Regions from separate parts of the Homo sapiens genome. Here region 2 is linked to region 1. A link means that fine-mapping ties the variant in region 1 to the expression of a gene that starts in the linked region. Tissue or cell type: monocytes. Region 1 holds a variant in brackets; the other region holds the start of a gene. All regions are shown on one strand. Distances are from middle to middle.

Region 1 (10,515 bases):
AAAAAAAATCTATGTAGTTTCTTGTATTCAAGTGTCAAAATAATAATACTGAATTTGTAAGAGGTTTTAGTGTTACCTAGCCATAGCAAGAGGTATGACTAGAATGCCCTGCAATTGTATATTGAGAAAGCTAATGCAGTCCTTTTTTTTTTTTTTTTTTTTTTTGAGACCAAGTCTTGCTCTGTTGCCCAGGCTGGAATGCAGCGACACAACCTCGGCTCACTGCAACCTCTGCCTCCTGGGTTCAAGTGGCTCCCCTGCCTCAGCCTTCCAAGTAGCTGGGATTACATGCACACACCGCCATACCTGGCTGATTTTTGTATTTTTAGTAGAGATGGGGTTTCACCATGTTGGCCAGACTGGTCTCGAACTCCTGAGCTCAGGTGATCTTCCCGCCTCGGCTTCCCAATGTGCTGGTATTACAGGTGTGAGCCACTGCACCTGGCCGTCAATTCTTTATAGAATGAATTTTAAAAATTTATCTGCAGTGTTCATTGCTTGGGTTATTGAGGGAAATTACACAAATAAAACTTGTATATGAATACTTCATGTCTCTTTGCAATCTTTAATTCACTGAAAGCCTCAGAGTCTTTAGAAGAACTGTGGATTTTAGGTGATTCACATAATGGGCAAATGAGTCTATCTACAAGAGGACAGCCAAAATGGGGGCAGGTTCTGGAAAATAAGTCCTGTGAAGAAGAATTCAGGAGAAATGGATATATGGAACCTGGAAAGGGACAACCAAACATATACATTGTTAAAGCTATTTAAAGAGTAGTCATACAGTATTGTGTGTACCTCCAGTGGGCAGAACTGGCTATTAAGTACAACATACAATAAAGCAGATTTAGGTTTAATATAAGGAAGAACAATTCAAGCTTTTAAGCAAAGAGAAAGTTTATTTCACAAAGATGTGAATGTCATATCACCAAAAGCAATTAAGCAGAGCCCAGGCAAGCATCTGTAAAGGATGTTGTATTAATAGAAATGATCCCTCTTTCTGTCAGTAGGGGTTGTACCAGGTAACCTCAGTGTTTTCTAATTGTGAGATTTTAGACTTGGCTGAAATGATTGGTTTAACTTTGCTTCAGATGTTTAGACCTGCATCTTTAATATTGTGTTGGCCAGTAAGTCTTGAGTCTACCTTTTTGTTTCCAGAATCACCTCTAGTGCAAAAATAAATAAATAAATAAATAAATAAATAAATAAAAGAGATTTGGACCCCAACTCCAACCTTTGAGAATTTTATTCAGGGAGACAGGGATGATAACCAGTTTCTGTTTATTGTGGTAAAATATACATAACATACAATTTACCATTTTAACCATTTTAAGTGATGTGGCATTAAGTACATTCACATTGTTGTGCAGCATCATTACTCTCCATCTCCAAAACTTTTTCATCATCTCATACTGAAACCTGTACCTGTTAAATAATAACTCTCCATTTTCTTCTCCCACTAGCCCAGGTAACCACCGTTTCTACTTTTGTCTTTATGAATTTGACTATTCTAGGTACCTAGGTGACACAATATTTGTCCTTCTGTGTGTAGCTTAGTTCACTTAGCATAATGTTTTCTAGATTCATCCATGTTGTAGCATGTATCCAAATTTCCTTCTTTTCTAAGGCCGAATAATATTCCATTGTACGTATATACCATGTTTTAATTCAGCCATCCATGGACATGTGGGTTGTTTCTACCTTTTGTTTATTGTAAATAATGCTGCTGTGAACATTGGTATCTGAGTCCCTGCTTTCAATTCTTTGGGGTATGTACCCAGAAATGGAATTGCTGGATCATACCATAATGCATGTTTAATTTTTGTTGGAACTGTCATCCTTTTTTCCACAGCAGCTGCACCATTTTACATTCCTGCTAGCAGTGCACAGGGATTCTAATTTTCCAACATCCTTGCCAACGCTTGTTTTCTGTTTTAGCTGTCTGTAACAAAAATACCATAGACTGGGTGGTTTAAACAACAAACATTTATTTCTCACAGTTTGAGAGGCTGGGAATTCTAAGAGAAGGTGCAAGGTGCCAGCAAATCCAGTGTGTGATGAGGATACTGTTCCTGCTTTACAGATGACCATCTTTCCATTCCATTTTCACATGGTAAAAGGCTGGAGCAAGACCTTTCATGTCTCTTCTTATAAGAGCACTAATCCCACTCTTGAGGGCTCTACTTTAATGACCTCATTACCTCCCAAAGGCCCCACCTTCTAAGACCATCATATTGAGGCTTAGCATTTCAACATATGAATTCTGGGGAGACTTAAACATTCAGTTCGTAGTGATAGCCATCCCAATGGGTGTGAAGTGGTGTCTCATTGTGGTTTTGATTTGCATTTCCCTAATGATTAGTGATGTTGAGCATTTTTGTGTGTGCTTACTGGTCATCTGTATATTTTCTTTGGAGAAATGTCTATTAAAGTTTCTGCCCATTTTAAATCAGGTTCATTTTTGTTGTCATTGCTCAGTTTTTAGGAGTTTTCTACATACAGTTGACCCTAGAACAACACGGGTTTTAACTGCACAGGTCCACTTATACTTGGATATTTTCCAAGAAATATAGTGGGAAATTTTTTGGAAATTTGAAAAAGTTTGAAAAAACTCACAAATGAACCCCATAGCCTAGAAATATTGAAAAAATTAAGAAAAAGTTATATATGTCATGAATGCATAAAATATATGTAGATATTAGTCTAGTTTGTAATTTACTACCATAACATGTATACAAACCTATTATTAAAAAGTTAAAATTTAGCAAAACTAACATACATACTTACAGACCGTACATGGCACCATTCACAGTCAAAAGAAACGTAAACCAAAATAAAGATGCAGTATTAAATCATAACTGCATAAAATTAACTGTAGTGTGTACCGTACTACTGTGATAATTTTGTAGCTACTTCCTGTTGCTATTGCGGTGAGCTCAAGTGTTGAGAGGATCCACTTAAAATGCTGTATGTTGCTAATCATCTCCATGTGAGCCATTCATCTCTCCAGTAAATTGCTTATTGCAGTAAAAAGTGATGTCTCGTCATGCTTGCATATTTTTCATCATGTTTAGTGCAATACCATAAACCTTGAATAACATCCTACAATCCATAAAAATGCCACTAGCGATACTAGAAGTGCTCTCAAGAAACAATGTCATGACATTGTAAGAAAAATTCGAATTGCTTGATGTGTACCACAGATTGAGGTTTGTAGCTGCTGTTGTCCACCATTTCAGACAGATCCATATTGTAAACAAATGATGTAATTTATGGTATTGATAAATACTACAGTACTGTAAATGTGTTTTCCTTATGGTTTTCTTAATATTTTCTTTTCTCCACTTTATTGTAAAAATACAGTATATAATACATGTAACATACAACATATGTGTTAATTGTTGGCTGTTGGTAAGGCTTCTAGTTAACAGTAGGCTATTAGTAGTTAAGTTTTTGGGTAGACAAGGGTTATACATAGATTTTCCACTGTGTAGGGGGTTGGCACCCCTAACCCCCATGTTGTTTCAAGGGTCAACTGTGCTAGAATCCTTACACCTAACTAATACATAAAAATATACTGATATACATTTTCAAGAAATGTGTATTTCTAGCATCATCTAAATGTGGAGTTGGAGTTTATTAAACTCATTTATTTTGTTTGACATTATTTTTAGTACCAGAGGTAAATAAGCTTTGCTTTTGTTATTTGGTCATAAAATATAAAAATCTCAGTAAAAATATTGATAACAGGCCAGGCGCGGTGGGTCACGCCTGTAATCTCAACACTTTGGTGTTGAGCCAACACTTTGGCCAAGGCGGGGGCATCACGAAGGTCAGGAGTTCAAGATCAGCCTGGCCAACATGGTGAAGCCCCATCTCTACTAAAAATATAAAAAAATTAGCCAGGCATGGAGGTGCGGGCCTGTAATCCCAGCTACTCAGGAGGCGGAAGCAGGAGAATCGCTTGAACCTGGGAGGCGGAGGTTTCAGTGAGCTGAGATTGCACCATTGCACTCCAGCCTGGGCAATAGAGTGAGATTCCATCTCCAAAAAAAAAAAAAAAAAAAAATAGGTAGATAGATAGATAGACAGACAGACAGACAGATAGATAACAGTGTTTCTGGAAAAGAGATATGGAATTTGGTTTTTCTTGTGAAGATGAATTCTTTCCTGGTTCAAATGAGAAGGTTGTATAAGATGTCCTTTCATTCTCTTTTAGTTCTAAAGTTCTATGGCTCTACAATAGTTTTTTAAAAACCTAATTGAACAACTAATAACAGGTGAAATGTGATAATTTTAGTGAACATCCATAAATATTTCATAAGTACACTAGATGTATTGAAAAATAAGTATTTCTCTATTCTTTATTTTTATTTTCGTGTACCTCTCATTAAGTACTCCCTCCTTTGTTTTTGTTAAATAGGCTGCCTCTAAGAATCAAACTTCACTCTTGGGAGAACCACCAAAAGAAATTCGGCTCAGTAAAAATCCATACTTGAATTTGGCAAGTGTGTTGCCCAGTGTGTGCTTATCATGTAAGTAGGGGCTCAGTATTCTTGTTGTGGAGTTTTACTGAATACTTTTCATAATAAGTTTTACTTTAATTTTTGACTTCATGGAAGCAAATAATACCTATTGACCAAATTAAGGCCTAAATTATTCTTTAAATTGAAAGAATAATTAAAACTAAGACACTCAAAATGCGTGCTATTTTATTTAAGGAAAACATTACAACTCATAGAGAGTCATTTTTCTTAACCAGAAGTTTAAACCTATAAGTAATCTTATATATCTTGAGTATTTGAATACTCCCAGAATGTATGAGCTACCAATAATTGGTGGAAGTGGAATTCTCATTTACATTTTGGAGGAAACCCTCAAGCCTTCAATTACTATAAATCAACTATTCATTCAAATATCGTTTTAAGAGAAAATCACAAATGTGATGTGCTCCAGGCACAAGGATGTTCACTGCAACATTGGTTGTAAATAGTGGGAAAACTGGAAAATACTTAATATTTGTCAATAGGGGAATGCTTAAATAGTTCATCATAAAATTGAATACTGTGCAACTTTTTTTTTAATAATTGAGGGATATCTACATATACTGATATGAGATGAACTCTAAAGCATATTTTGGCAAATATATGCATAAAATGATTCCATTTATGTTTATTTAAAGTTATATATCCTTACATGTATATACTTGAGAGTGCAAATGCATGAAGTAAATCCAAAAAAGTAAATTCTAAACTATTACCTCTGGGAAGAAGAATAGGATTAAATGAAAAGAGATGAAAGATGAATTTCATTTTTAATATACATCCTCTGTATTTTATGAAATATCCTTGAATCCAAACATTAATTTGTAATTTTTTTTGAGCTGGAAAAAAATGTAAAGGCACTTCTAGTATACCTGTTATATATTGATCTGGTCTAAAAATTGATGGTGACAATTATTACATTTATAAGAATGGTTAGTTTACATTTTATATGCCTTGTTTTAGAGACTA[GACACACACAC/G]ACACACACACACACACACACACACACACACACACACGTTTTGTTTTGGGTTATTTATTTATTTATTTTTTTATTATACTTTAAGTTTTAGGGTTTTGCTTTTTTGAGACAAGGTCTCCCTCTGTCACCCAGGCTGGAGTGCTGTGGTGTGATCTTGGCTACTGCAGCCTACACCTCCTGGGCTCAAGTGATCCTCCTAACTCAGCCTCCCGAGTAGGTGGGACTACAGGCATGTGCCACCATGCCCAGCTAATTTTGTGTGTGTGTGTGTTTGTGAGACAGAGTCTTGCTCTGTCACCCAGTCTGGAGTGCAGTGGCATCATCTCGGCTCACTGCAACCTCCACTTCCTGGGTTCAAGCAATTCTTATGTCTCAGCCTCCCAAGTAGCTGGGATTACAGTCATGCACCACCATTCCTGGCAAATTTTTATATTTTTAGTATTTTTATAGAGATGGGGTTTCACCATGTCACCTAAGCCAATCTCGAACTCCTGGGCTCAAGTGATCCTCCCACCTTGGCCTCTCAAAGTGCTGGAATTACAGGCATGAGCAACCGTGCTCAGCCAGACATATATGTTTTTGAACCTTTCCACCAAAATTATTTACCCATGAGACAGGTGTCCATTTTAAGTTGTTCCAAATGAATAAGACAGTATTATATACTTCTCAGGGGAAAATTATTTAGTTATATATTGGCAAACTAAAATTTTGTTCTATTTGATAATGTGCTGAGTTACAATTTATAATAAAATATAATTTGTTTATAATATAACTTATAATAAAATAATTTATTTAAAATAACCTAAATAAAATAAATTTATAATAAAATAACCTAAATAAAATAAACTTGTTGATTCTGCCTTTAGCCCCTGCAAGTAAAACCACTCTTCATAAGACTGGAATTGCAAGCAGCATTCTGGATGCAATCTCTCAGGGAAGTGAATCACAACACGCATTGGAAAAGTGCATTGCTTATTCTCCACCTTTTGGTGATTATGCACAGGTAAATAATTCCCAGGTTCTGATGATACTCAGAAAAATTGGTTCAACTATATATTGAGTTCACTGAATATGAAATTGTGATTTCTATATTATTAACGTAGGCAAATCAAATTGCACTGATCTATGTATTTCTTACTCATCATTTGAAATTTGGGAATGTGTTCAAGACATTATTTAGTATCATTTTGCACTAGATATTTACCTCTCACTGTTTACCTAGTGGTTGGCAAACTACAGCCCATAGAACAAATCTAGCCCACCACCTGGTTTTGTAAATAAATTTGTATTGTAATACAGCCATGTCCATTCATTAACATATTGTCTATGGTGCTGTCATGCTATAATAAAAGAGTTGAGTGATGACAGTAGAGACTATGTGGCCTGCAAGATTAAATATTTACTATCTGGTTCTTTATAGAAAAATGCTGCTAACCTCTGGTTTGCACTAGTGTAGACCTAAGAAACCCAAGGGAATGCCTCTGTTCTTCTCCACTGATTGTAGATGGAGAAAGATGATCATATTTACAGACACTACTGTGCTAACTTCTAAACCAGCCAATCAATAACATAAAAATATTATGTTCATAAGATGTCCTGTGTCATTACTTAAATATTTCAGTTTTGCTTTGGCCCTTCTTCAGCTTACTCTTAGTGGTGTAAGCTGAATATATATCATGTTAGCCCTGTGTGATTATGGAATCATAAGAGTCCACAAGAGTCTTATAATTATCAGTTCTGACTCTTACTTTCCTAGAACAGCCAGCTTCTTCTCAGATCTATCCTGTTCGTTGGAGTCTTGTCTCCACTTTGATTTCCCTGGAGCAGCTTTGTGTTTGCCTGACCCATCCCTAATAAACTTAGAAAAGAAAACCACTTAGAACAATTGACGCCTGATTATAAGAGTACTAGAAACAGCCCAAGTTCTGTAAAAATGGTGCAGCTGGATATTAGTGAAATATTTGCCATCTCTTATATACCTGGGACAAGACGGAAAAATATGGGTTGGGTAGATGATGTAATTAGGTGACAGTATATCTATATTTAGAGAACAGTGATCACAAATTGCTGCAGTCTGAAGGCATTCTCTTATATTGATTCATAAGAGTCATCTTCAGTCCTTTATTAGATAACATTTGAAGTAATGACTTAGATAAAGACATTAATTGTAAAATTTACAAGATATAGTCCTGTACAATTCCAATTTGTTTCTTTTCAAGAAACAAACTTTTTATAAACAGGAGAAGCACAATAAATTTTTTAAAAATTCATTAAATACATATTTAAGCTTTAAAAATTTTTTGAACTTTTATTTCTTTTTAAATTTGCCTTTTTCTTAGCAGTTTTGCTTATTAGATTACTGTGATTTATTGTATACTTATATCCATGGAAAGACTTTCTCATTCACACATGGAGAAATTCTGTGATAATGATGCCTTTTGCATTACTGTATGTCTTCTGCCTCCACACTTGCTTGCCCAGAGATATGGTGGGGAAATGAATCCTCCCTGCACTGTTCAGTGTCTCCTTTGACAGTCCCTGCTTCTAGCGCACGCTTGTTCATAAAATGGGATTTGTTCTCTCTCTCGTGTTCTTTCTTCCTTATAAACTTAATTAAATGTTACTAATGGAACATTAAAGTACATGGAATTAAACTAATGGAATACTAAAATAACCATTATAGAAAAAGGTGGTCGTGTATTAGGAATTCCTTTTACTATTTCCACTGCTGGGATGAAGGAAGAGGTCTAAGGGAAAGGAACCAAAAGTGTTTGTTTTCTTTTTAACACTTGCTATATGCTTTGTGACATAAGTGATTACTATTTCTAAAAACCCTGTGAGATTTAGTAAACTGGCTAGCCATATGTAGAAAGCTGAAACTGGATCCCTTCCTTACACCTTATACAAAAATCAATTCAAGATGGATTAAAGACTTAGATGTTAGACCTAAAACCATAAAAACCTTAGAAGAAAACCTAGGCAATACCATTCAGCACATAGGCATGGGCAAGGACTTCATGTCTAAAACACCAAAACCAATGGCAACAAAAGCCAAAATTGACAAATGGGATCTAATTAAACTAAAGAGCTTCTGCACAGCAAAAGAAACTACCATCAGAGTGAACAGGCAACCTACAGAAGGGAGAAAATTTTTGCAATCTACTCATCTGACAAAGGGCTAATACCCAGAATCTACAAAGAACTCAAACAAATTTACCAGCAGAAAACAAACAACCCCATCAAAAAGTGGGCAAAAGATATGAACAGACACTTCTCAAAAGAAGACATTTCTGCAGCCAACAGACACATGAAAAAATGCTCATCATCACTGGCCATCAGAGAAATGCAAATCAAAACCACAATGAGATACCATCTCACACCAGTTAGAATGGCAATCATTAAAAAGTCAGGAAACAACAGGTGCTGGAGAGGATGTGGTGAAATAGGAACACTTTTACAGTGTTGGTGGGACTGTAAACTAGTTCAACCGTTGTGAAGTTGGTGTGGCGATTCCTCAAGGATCTAGAACTAGAAATATCATTTGACCCAGCCATCCCATTACTGGGTATATACCCAAAGAATTATAAATCATGCTGCTATGAAGACACATGCACACGTATGTTTATAGAGGCACTATTCACAATAGCAAAGACTTGGAACCAACCCAAACGTCCATCAGTGATGGACTGGATTAAGAAAATGCAGCACATATGCACCATGGAATACTATGCAGCCATAAAAAAGGATGAGCTCATGTCCTTTATAGGGACATGGACGAAGCTGGAAACCATCATTCTGAGCAAACTATCACAAGGACAGAAAACCAAACACCACATGTTCTGACTCAGAGGTGAGAATTGAACAATGAGAACACTTGGAAACAGGAAGGGGAACGTCACACACTGGGGCCTGTCGTGGGGTGGGGGGAGGGGCAGGGATAGCATTAGGAGATATACCTAATGTAAATGACGAGCTAATGGGTGCAGCACACCAACATGGCACATGTATACCTATGTAACAAACCTGCACGTTGTGCACATGTACCCTAGAACTTAAAGTATAATAAAAAAAAAACCTTGTGAGATTTAAATGATCACCTTCATTATACAAATGGAGAAGGGATAAATAATCTCTCCAAGTTCATACAATTGGTAAGTGATTTCTTGATTTCAAAGGCCACATTATTTATACCATTGAGAAGTTTCTTCAGGCATGGAAGTAATATCTCAGAGAAACTGTGTAGGCTGCTCTGCTTATGGATTAGGAGAGATGAATATGTCAAGGCATAGAGGGACAAAATAATCTTTATCTCCAATAAAACTATCAGATTTAAAAACCTAATTGGCATTTCCATTATTGATGTTGTTGCTTGTATCATACTATCTCCCTACAGATAACCATTATTAAAACTGGACTAGGCTGGGCGCGGTGGCTCACACCTGTAATCCCAGCACTTTGGGAAGCAAAGATGGGCGGATCACAAGGTCAGGAGATCGAGACCATCCTGGCTAACATGGTGAAACCCCATCTCCACTAAAAATACAAAAAATTAGCCGGGCGTGGTGGTGGGCGCCTGTAGTCCCAGCTACTTGGGAGGCTGAGGCAGGAGAATGGCGTGAACCCAGGAGGCGGAGGTTGCAGTGAGCCGAGATTGCGCCACTGCACTCCAGCCTGGGCGACAGAGTGAGACTCCGTCTCAAAAGAACAACAAAACAAAACTGGACTAAATATGAATGAAAACCAACTACTTGAAAGCACTAGAGAATGAATGACCAAAAGCAGGCAGAAACGGGAGAATTATTCCTTGAAACAGGAAAACATCACTGTATGGTATTTGTGTTTCTGTAGCTTTTTGCCTAATACCACTCCCTAGATGGAGAAAGCTGCAGTCTCACTAGCTTGAGGAGTCAGAAGACAGAGTTCAGGACTGTTAGCAAGGCTGTTAAGTGAAGGGGGGACATCGTGGAAAAGAGGGGGTTGCATAGGAAGGAG
Region 2 (10,515 bases), 68 kb before region 1:
TCTGGTACATTATAGACATTCAATAAATACTGCTAAATGAATAATGTGTATTGTTTATAGTTTACAAGGTCTTTTCACATACTTAACTTATTTTCATCATATTATCATATCACATAAGCATAAGAGTTTGGATACAAGAAGCTGTTGTTATTACTATTATTATTAAACTGAGACTTAGTAAACATTTCTAGCATTTTCCCCACCTGCAGAACTTTAAAAATACACAAAAATTACCAATATGGGACAGTAAACTAGTTCAACCATTGTGGAAGTCAGTGTGGTGATTCCTCAGGGATCTAGAACTAGAAATACCATTTGACCCAGCTATCCCATTACTGGGTATATACCCAAAGGATTATAAATCATGCACATGTATGTTATTGCGGCACTATTCACAATAGCAAAGACTTGGAACCAACCCAAATGTCCAACAATGATAGACTGCATTAAGAAAATGTGGCACATATACACCATGGAATACTATGCAGCCATAAAAAATGATGAGTTCATGTCCTTTGTAGGGACATGGAGGAAGCTAGAAACCATCATTCTCAGCAAACTATTGCAAGGACAAAAAACCAAACACCACATGTTCTCACTCATAGGTGGGAATTGAACAATGAGAACACATAGACACAGGGTGGGGAACATTACATACTGGGGCCTGTTGTGGAGTGGGGGGAGAGGGAGGGATAACATTAAGAGATATACCTAATGTAAATGATGAGTTAATGGGTGCAGCACACCAACATGGCACATGTATACTTATGTAACCAACCTGCATGTTGTGCACATGTACCCTAAAACTTAAAGAATAATAAAAAAATAAATAAATAAATAAACTTTAAAAAATTACCACCAATATTTAAAAAAATAAAGGCTAAAGCTAGCATAGGGCTCATATTTTAATAACATGGTCATTATATAGATCATGATAATTACCTGTGGGTATTGGTAAATACATTGCTGCTTGATAATTGTACTTCACTTCAAGTTCAGATTAGAGTGTTCCTTTAGTATGCCATGGAAGCAGCTATTTAAAGAGTCAGGCTAAACCTGGCATGAGAGGAACTCTTTGGAATTACAGTAGCATTCCAAAGTCTTTGCAGTTTCCATCCAGTTCTTTTATGTGGCAATAACAATTAATTCAGTTTAAAATTATTTTTAACCAGTAGATTCTGCCATTTCCCTTAATTCCTTGAAAACAGTTGAGCAAATGTAAAACATACTTGATTTGAAATCTAGGGCAGTGTTTTTCGAAATGTGAGTAAGGACTCATTAGTGATATGCAAAATCGACTGTGTAATTCAAGCAATTTTAAAATGGAATGGAATAGAATAGGAAATACTAGAATGTGCTACATGATGAAGGAGCGTGATGTTTTGTGAAATCTTCATTTCGATTGTGTGTGTGTTTACTAAATTGTGATATAAAATATATTTCCCACTGTGGCATATATTTCCCACTAGATTGGGTCAAAAAAGTTTGAAAGCCACTACCCTATACGACGTAGCAATATTGCACAAGGAGTGGGATCAATTCAAAGTAGCCACTTAATAAAATTGGCTTAATAATTTGATAACATTGTAATCATGTCCCCATTGGGGCCAAAACTGGAATTACATTATCATAACTCCCAAAACATAATCAACACCTGATTCATTCACCAGACTTAACCTCAAATAACATTTAATTATTTCCAAAAATTAAACCCATCTCTAAGAGGTGAGTATTTGCTACCACATAAACTATGCAGAATAATTTGCTGTAGATTATAAAGTCAATTCCAAAAAAGCACTTTGGGGCTGGGCGTGGTGGCTCACGCCTGTAATCCCAGCACTTTGGGAGGCCGAGGCGAGCGGATCATGAGGTCAGGAAATCAAGACCATCCTGGCTAACATGGTGAAACCCCGTCTCTACTAAAAATACAAAAAATTAGCTGGGCTTGGTGGCACACGCCTGTAGTCCCAGCTACTCTGGAGGGTAAGGCAGGAGAATCGCTTGAACCTGGGAGGCGGAGGTTGCAGTGAGCCAAGATCACGCCACTGCACTCCAGCCTGGGCAACAGAGCAAGACTCCGTCACAAAAGAAAAAAAAAAAGCACTTTGGAGAATGTTTTGAGCAAAAGCAATCACTGAAGTTATATTCAGACCACTATCCGTTTGCATATTTATTATATTTAATTATAATCATTGCATAATTTTCTCTCAGTGAGACTTAGCCCCTATTGTACAGGAGCATTATTTTACTATTTCTGTCTTCTTATTGCCTTTATATATTATCTAGCACATAAGGGACATTTAATAAATGTTTGCCAAGGAGGTGGTACTCATTTGGATAAATACATGTTCTGAAACATAATGAATGACTCAAGGTTACAGCCTATGCTAAGGCTATTCATGCTTCTTCACTTCAAAGAATGTACTTTTCAAAGTCTCTCAGCTCTACAAAATAGGGCCTTATTGGAGTTTAAAATGTATACCTTTTAAAATCAAAGGAATACAATTTAAAAGCAAAATGATACATTAATACTAGAATATCATGGATGCAAGCAGAGAAATAAGTGCTCTTATACAATGCTTGTGATAGGGAAAACTGAGGTAAGTTTGTAAATACATACAAAAAATCCTTAAATATGCTTACTCTAGATGCAGAAATTTTGCTTCTAGTTCTTCACTCTGTGGAAAAGTAATGATCTTCAAATATGTATAGAGGGTTAAACTCAGTGCTGTTTACAATAGATAAAAATAATAGGAAATACTAATGCTAGGAAATAAGTGAATTTTCTAATTCAACAGAATAATATGCAGCCATAAAAACCATGGTATTCAAATACATTGGCATAGAAAGGGATTCAGCAGACATACTGTAAAAAGCAGAAAACAGAGCTGTAAACTACAGAATATCATTCAAAAACATTTTTATGCAGTAATAGTCACGTAATAAAATTAATATTTTAAAAGTGAATAGTTCAGTGACTATTTAGTACATTCATATTATTGGGCTACTGCCCCCTCTGTCTAGTTCCAAAACTAGATTTTCATCATTCCATAAGGATGTTTGCACCCATTACCTTCTCCTCCAGCCCTTGGTAAACACCAATCTGTGTTCCGCTCTATGAATCTACCTATTCTGATATTTTATACGCATGGAATCATACAATATATGACCTTTTGTCTCTGGCTTCTTTCATTTAATGCTTTGGAGGTTCGTCCACCTTGTAGGGGTCCTTAATTCCTTTTTATGGCTAAAAATATTTCTTAGCATATATATATCCCACGCTTTGCCTATCTGTTCATCAATAAATGGACATTTGGGTTGTTTCTATCCTTTGGTTACCAGGAATAGTGGTGGTATAGAAGGGTGTATTGCCGAATATCATTTTAATGATACAAGTATTAGCAGCCATTATTTTTGGGTGGACGGATTACGGGTGAATTATTTTATGTTATTCAGAACACTGGGCTTTGGAATCAATCAGAACAGATCCCATTTCCTCACGTGTAAAGTGAGGAAAACAAAACCTACGTAATTGAATGATCATGAAGAGTAAATAAATATGTATATGTAAAGCATTTAGAAATGCGTGGTTGGGGGGAGCACATGGTAAGGACTGAATTTGTAGTATTTTTAAAAAATCTTTAAAACATTTTGTTTTTCTTTTAATTAGTGTTAAAGTCTTTTTTTTTTTTTTTTTTTTTTTTTTGCTAGTGTACTTGCATGCTACACAATTAAGATGCATGGTCCCCTTCGCTGATGGTCACCTGGGCTAGTGCCAAAGGCTGCTGGATTGTTTGATCTGATGACATCCGTTTGACTAAGTATAGTTCTACACTGTAACTCTCCCTCCAAGTTTCAATTAAAATAATGTTCCAAGCAGCGTATTCTCCAGCCCCTCTGCCACAGCTCCTTTTCCATTCTAGTCTTTGTTTCAGCATCACTTTCCATGTTGCAGACCCAACTACCCAGGTTTTACATTTTAGGAACTGCATGACAGGGACAGAGGGACAGGTGAAGGGCACAGGCTTTCTCATACACAGCTAGCAAAATACATTACGATCAGGTTTTACCAAATACATAACATTTCTCCCACAATGTCCCTCTTTTTACTCCCCAGAAAATCTCATTGTAAACTCAAACTTTGCCAAATATGCTCTTCTTGAACCAACAGAAGGGTTACCATCGGGAGCCAGCCGGGCTGCAGGAGGCGCCCTCCTGCCACCCCTCCAGCCCCATCTCGGGTGTGGGAAGACCGAGTTCGCGCCCGCAGCCCCCGGGCCGCCCCAGCGCGGGAGTTTCGAGGGGAGCCGGGGGAGAGCTGCGGCGTCACATGGGGGGCCAGCCGGGGACAGGCGCCTGGGGCTGAGTCTCCCGGCGAAGCCACCGCGAAGGGGCCGCATCCCCCAGAGAACGACCCTGGGCGTTCGCGAAGGCCTCGCAGAGAGGGGGAGCCCGCCTGCGCGTCCGCGCCCTCACAGGTGTCCGGGTGGCGGCGCCCGGCCCCGCCTGCGGACCCGCGAGAGGCGGGCGCGGGCGCGCCTGTGCGCCGGGGCCGGGGGCCGGCGGGGGAGGTTCCCGCGAGGTGGTTCTCGGGCTCCTCCTCGGCGCCTCAGGTTTCCTCTCCCCGCCAGCAGGCTGCTGGCTGCGGCGCCGCCTCTCTCTACTCCCTCCTCCCACCGCCCCCCTTCCCCGCGGTTGGGCCCACTCTGCGGCCTCTGCCCGCCTCGCCCTCGCCCGGGCCTCCTCCCGCTTTCTCTCTCCGCTTCCCCTGGAGCCTCCGAGGAGTCCGCAGCCGCTGGGCGCCCGGGAAGATGGCGGCGGCGGCGGGAGACGGCGGCGGCGAGGGGGGCGCGGGCCTGGGCAGCGCGGCGGGGCTGGGGCCGGGGCCGGGGCTGCGCGGGCAGGGCCCCTCAGCCGAAGCGCACGAGGGCGCCCCGGACCCGATGCCCGCCGCGCTGCACCCTGAGGAGGTCGCCGCGCGACTGCAGCGGATGCAGCGGGAGCTGAGCAACCGCAGGAAAATCCTGGTGAAAAACCTGCCCCAGGACAGCAACTGCCAGGTACTGGGACGGTGATAGGGGCGACGCGTCCCGAGGGGCGGCGGGGCGGCGCTCCGTGTCCAGGCTGGGATCGGGGGCGCCTCAGAGCGGTCCTGGGGAGTGGGTCGGCGCCGAGTGGTGAGAGCGGCCCCTCGGTTTGACTGAGTTCTTGGGGTTTCTAGCCTGCAGACGCCCTGCCAGGGAGGGGGGCAGATTGGGAAACTGAGGCTCTGAGTGGCGAAGCGGCTTCTCCAAGGTCACGGGAATCAGGGGCTGCTGCCTCCAAGTTCGGCCCGGTCTTTCCTTCCCCTACGGCCGTAGAGGAGTAGGAGGTGAAGGAGAGTGGAGGTGAGTTGTGGAGCACACATTTTGCGGGGGGGAGCGGGGGTAGAGGGGGCCGAAGCTTCGGGAGCACCTTGGCAGGGGCGAGGGCTCCAACGTATAGTCCCCGGTGCTCGGGAGTGCCATAGGGGGCAGGGGCACGAGAGAGCTGGGAGTGAGTTTCGCTGTTGTTGCAGAAGCACTTGCCCAAGTTTCTATGAAACAACTCTGTCTTCTCAGTTTGCTAAGGCCCCAGAATAGAGTTATTGCTGCGCTCCTTGGAGCCTTGCAGCCGCCTCCTGCTACGCCAAGTACAGTACTGGAGGGTTTGTTCTCAGTGACTTGGATGAGGTTTAAAGATAGCTACTCTGTGTATTTAATCCAGATTAACTGTTGCTTTTAAGATTAGAAACTCTGCATCTATTTAACTTTTTTTTTCCCCTGATTTCAAAAGCTGCATGCTCATTGTAGGAGAGCTAGGAAAGACAGAGAAGCACAAAGGGGACACAGAAATTACCCATATTTCTGATACCTGAAGATAACCATTGTTATCCTGGGATGTTGTTCTTTTCTCTTTTCCTATGCATATATATTTTTGTTTTATCAAAAGCTTGAAATCATTTCTTTGATTCTTCAGGATTTCTTAGCTGTCTGGATGTTCACACATGTTTCACATATAACCTGAATTTATATACTGCTCCGAGTGTGGTGGGCTGTCCTGGTAGTTGCGGATTTGTAGTTCCTCCTGTAACCGGATGCATGAAATTGCAAGAGGGCTGGCTATTGACAATTGCATGGCAGTTCTTCCATGTGACTTATAAAATAATGAGACCAATGCCCCATTACTATGTAATGAGACCTTACATAGCCATTCACAATAAATATGAACATATAACCTTATAACCCGTAGGCATGGGGGGCTATTTTGTTTCAAAATGCAGTGTCTGTCAGTATTGTTTATCTCATCTGTCTTTCAACTCTTTCCATTCCGCCATGGTCCACTTCCCATCTGTCAGGTAATGTTTTGTGATACTACCTGTTAAGGACACCTGCAATGGACTGATTTCTTGGAAGCAGCCTCCCCTGCCCATACAAATAGAGGACTGTAAGGGAGCTCAGGAAGGAGGAGGCTTGGAAGAAGCAGATGGCATTTTTTAAAAAAACAAATTTAAAAAATAGCAGCTCTTTGTATAGACAGTCTAGGAGGAGAGAAATAGAGAAGTATCTCAATGTCTTTGTAGAATGTCAGCTGTTTTTGTTATCACAATTCCTTGCATTAATTCTAAATATATTTAGACCCCAAATTGAAGACGTTCTGTCTATTCTTGCTTTGCTGTTGGTATCTTTCTCATTTCCCTTCGCAATAGACATGAAAAATATATCAAAGGGTCTAATAAAAGGAGCAGTTTTAATTAGTGATAGAAGCTTTCTCAGAATTACACTGGGATTTGTATTTTTGAGATTTCATCTACTTAAACTAATATTTTCATATGTTCTGCATGAATTTTTTTGTATTTTTTGTTTTAACAATTTCCCTTAATTATAATGTCTGCTTTTTCTTAGTGACTATATTTTACTGTCAACTTACTGATGAAAGTTTCACTTTATTTTATTTTGTGTCTTTTTGCTAGTAAGGCCTACATAAAATCACCTGTGCTAAAACTACATATTTACCCTTATGAAATGGTTAATATGGCTTTTGTTCAATTATTAAGTAATCAGATATTTTTGAAATACTAAGTTCTTGTTCTTTTCCAGAAGAGACTGTGTTTATTCATTCATTTCTTTCTTTCTTTTTTTTTTTTTCTGAGACAGAGTCTCGCTCTGTCATCCAGGCTGGAGTGCAGTGGCGCGACCTCAGCTCACTGCAACCTCTGCCTCCCAGGTCCAAGTGATTCTCCCTGCCTCAGCCTCCCAAGTAGCTGGGATTACATAAGCCTGCCACCATGCCTGGCTAATTTTTGTATTTTTTAGTAGAGATGTGGTTTTGCCATGTTGACCAGGCCGGTCTTGAACTCCTGACCTCAGGTGATCCCACACGCCTCGGCCTCCCAAAGTGCTGAGATTACAGGTGTGAGCCACTGTGCCTGGCCTCATTTCTTTATTTTAGAATATCACTTTAAGGATCAAAGACATTCATAACTCTAGTTCTCAAACTGTGTATTTATGTCTCTAGAAAATACTGATCAATAACTTACTAGTAGAAACCCAATAATTTTTTCTTAACATTTGAAATATATGAGTGTTTTCTTTATTAAATGTAGTTTTCATAAATCTCAAATTTTGTTTTATTTTTGGTATAGCAGATTTATAATAGCATCCCACAACTTTATAGTTCCTATAATTAAAAGGCATACTGAAAGTATTTTTAACTGGAAGCTTTTAGAGGTATGTTTATCAAATACCTTATAGAAGTACCGGCTCTAAAAAAAAGTGAACACCTTTATATTAAGTTCTCAAAAGCTTTCTCACTGAATAATTACTGTGCATTCAGTCAAGCCCTGTCTGGTCTGCCTAAGCTTTCTGGAATCTTCCTGGCCCTCTTTGTTTTCACAGCCTCAGCTCTGGTTCAAGTCCTTTTCGTCTCTTGTTCACTGTTAACAACTTTTCGGTTTGTCACCTACCTTCATTACTGTCCTGTTTCTTACATTTTAGCTCCTTCTGCATGCTACTTCCCTTGAGGGATACTCCTGAAGCACAAATCTGATCATGTCACTCTCCTGCTCATAAAAAACCAGCCTTTGGCTGCACGTCCTCTCAAACTTTTCCTCAAATTGTCCTTAACAGTAAAGAACAGTGAATCTGAATTAGACTGTTGCAAGACTGAAATTGCTTTGAAGTTTTGTGTTCTGTCTGAGAATTTTATATTAATTTTATATTCTATTAGTAACATTGGATTTAACACAAAAATAGCATTTAACTCCCAATTTTTTTTCATAAACTTGACACTTATGGAAAATGTACTATATTTGACTTTTGATTCTCTGTATTTCTGTATTACCATGGAGTACACAGATATGAGTTTGAAAAGCATGAAATGATAGGACAGCAGTCTAAGATTCTTAGGCTTTTTGTGTGTTGGCCCCTGCCTACGTTTCCAGTCTCATTCCTTTTTAGTTTTTATTTATTGTTTTGAGACAGGGACTTGCTCTGTCACCTGGACTGGAGTGCGGTGGAACGATCACTGCTCACTGCAGCCTTGACCTTCCAGGCTGAAGCGATTCTCTCACCCTCTAAAGTAGCTGGGACTACAGGCATAAGCCACCATGCCAGGCTAATTTTTTTTTTTTTAATTTTTTGTAGAGACATCGTATCTCTATGTTGCCTAGGCTGGTCTTGACCTCCTGGACTCAAGCAATCCTCCTGCATTTGCCTCCCAAAGTGCTGGGACCACAGTGTGAGCCACTGCACCCAGCCATCAGTCTCATTTCTGATTAGTCCCGCATTGGATTCTGTTCATTTCTGATTAGTCTTGCATTGGATTTTTTGTTTGTTTGTTTGTTTTTTGAGACGGATTCTCACTCTGTCGCCCAGGCTGCAGTGCAGTGGTGTGACCTCGGCTCACTGCAACCTCCACCTCCTGGGTTCAAGCGATTCTTCTGCCTCAGCCTCCCGAGTAGCTGGGATTACAGGCATGTGCCACCACGCTCGGCTAATTTTTGTGTTTTTAGTAGAGACAGGGTTTCACCATGTTGGCCAGGCTGCTCTCGAATGCCTGACCTCAGGTGATCTGCCCGCCTCGGCCTCCCAAAGTGCTGGGATTACAGGCGTGAGCCACCGTGCCCGGCCAGTCCTGCATTGGATTCTATTCCACATTTATCAAACTACCTAGATCCCCAAGTACCTCATGCCACTGTGAATTGAATATTTATAGTTATATCTTTGTTTTGGAATGTATTTATAGTGAGTACTTTATAGTGAATAATATTTATAATTATTTTTAATGAATAATTTATAGTCAATAGTAATGTTGCAAATGCTGGTTCCTATTCATAGCCATTGTATATGTGTGTGTCTGGTCTTTTGCAACTGAATTTAGAATTTTGATTGGTTGAGGTAATGTTTTAATATTTTTTCTAATATATGTGTTATTGTATTTCTATAAATTGTATTACGGTTAACCTGGTTCTGTTTCAATATTGTTGTCATTGGGGTTTCAAAATGGAGAAAACAGGGGCATTTGCTTCTTAGATTATTTGTGTTCACTTAGGTTTTTTTTCTTACAGGTCTTATGTGTGTGCATGTGTTTTGTTTTTGTCATCTTGTTTACCCTAAAATCTTGAAGAGAGTCTCTTGTGAAATTAGAAGACAATGTGAAGTGCTTAGGGCCAACATTCAGGATCAGTAATAGAGGAAACAAAACATTCTATTGTCACTTTGGATATTATAAACTTACATTTCAAAGTACTCTAATATGATAGTTAATTTGAGAAGCTTGATGGTTTATTTACAGAGACCCATTTGAAACCATAATATTACCAAGTAAGCACTTTTTAGAATCACAAACAACCAAATGTAAGAAACTCTAGTTAATCTTTTTTCGTAATTAAATTTTTTTCTGCTCTTTCTCTTTTCTTTTTCTTTTCTTTTTTTTTTTTTTAAAGAGACAGAGCAAGATTTCTCTGTCTCCCAGGCTGGAGTGCAGTGGTGTGATCATAGCTTACTGCAGCCTTAACTCCTGGGCTCAAGTGATCTTTCCATCTCAGCCATCTGAGAAGTTGGGACCATAGGCATGCACCACTGTGTCCAGCTAATATTTTTTAATTTTTTGTAGAGACACGGTCTCTCTATGTTGCCCAGGCTGGTCATAATCTTATTTATAAAAGCTACGTATTCCTGTTTATACATCAGTATAAAAAAGAATTATCTTACATATTTTATGTCCTTTAACTGTGGGATTTAAAAATGTACTTTGTTTTCTCTAACAATATATTTGGTAATTATTGCCTCTTTTTAAAATAGGGCTATTATTCTCTACTTTTTTCCTGACAATATTGGGGTGTTTTCTCTTTTTGAAATTATCCTTTCTTTAAAATCAAAATGCCATTGCTTACCTCCAAAAGTTACTTTTCTTAGTGTATGCTGTGCAAAAATTATCTATTAAATTTTCTTTTCTAATGCAATTAAACAGAATTGAATTATGGGTTCTACTTCT

Evidence for each region. PIP is the estimated chance that this variant, and not a neighbour inherited with it, causes the effect.
Region 2: RAVER2 starts here. The variant in region 1 is fine-mapped to the expression of RAVER2 in monocytes (BLUEPRINT, PIP 0.94).

The regions. Positions count from the first base shown.
Region 1 is chr1:64,808,315-64,818,829 of GRCh38, forward strand. RAVER2 (ribonucleoprotein, PTB binding 2) reads left to right here. Exons shown (of 12, transcript NM_001366165.2): 10 at 4,424-4,535; 11 at 6,390-6,526. Among named protein-coding and RNA genes, the nearest start is that of RAVER2, 68 kb to the left of the region's middle. The variant GACACACACAC/G (reference allele first, on the strand shown) is at 5,514.
Region 2 is chr1:64,740,362-64,750,876 of GRCh38, forward strand. It overlaps RAVER2 (ribonucleoprotein, PTB binding 2), which reads left to right and starts at 4,714. Exons shown (of 12, transcript NM_001366165.2): 1 at 4,714-5,060. The coding sequence starts at 4,812. RefSeq lists silencers at 4,368-4,467, 4,488-4,687.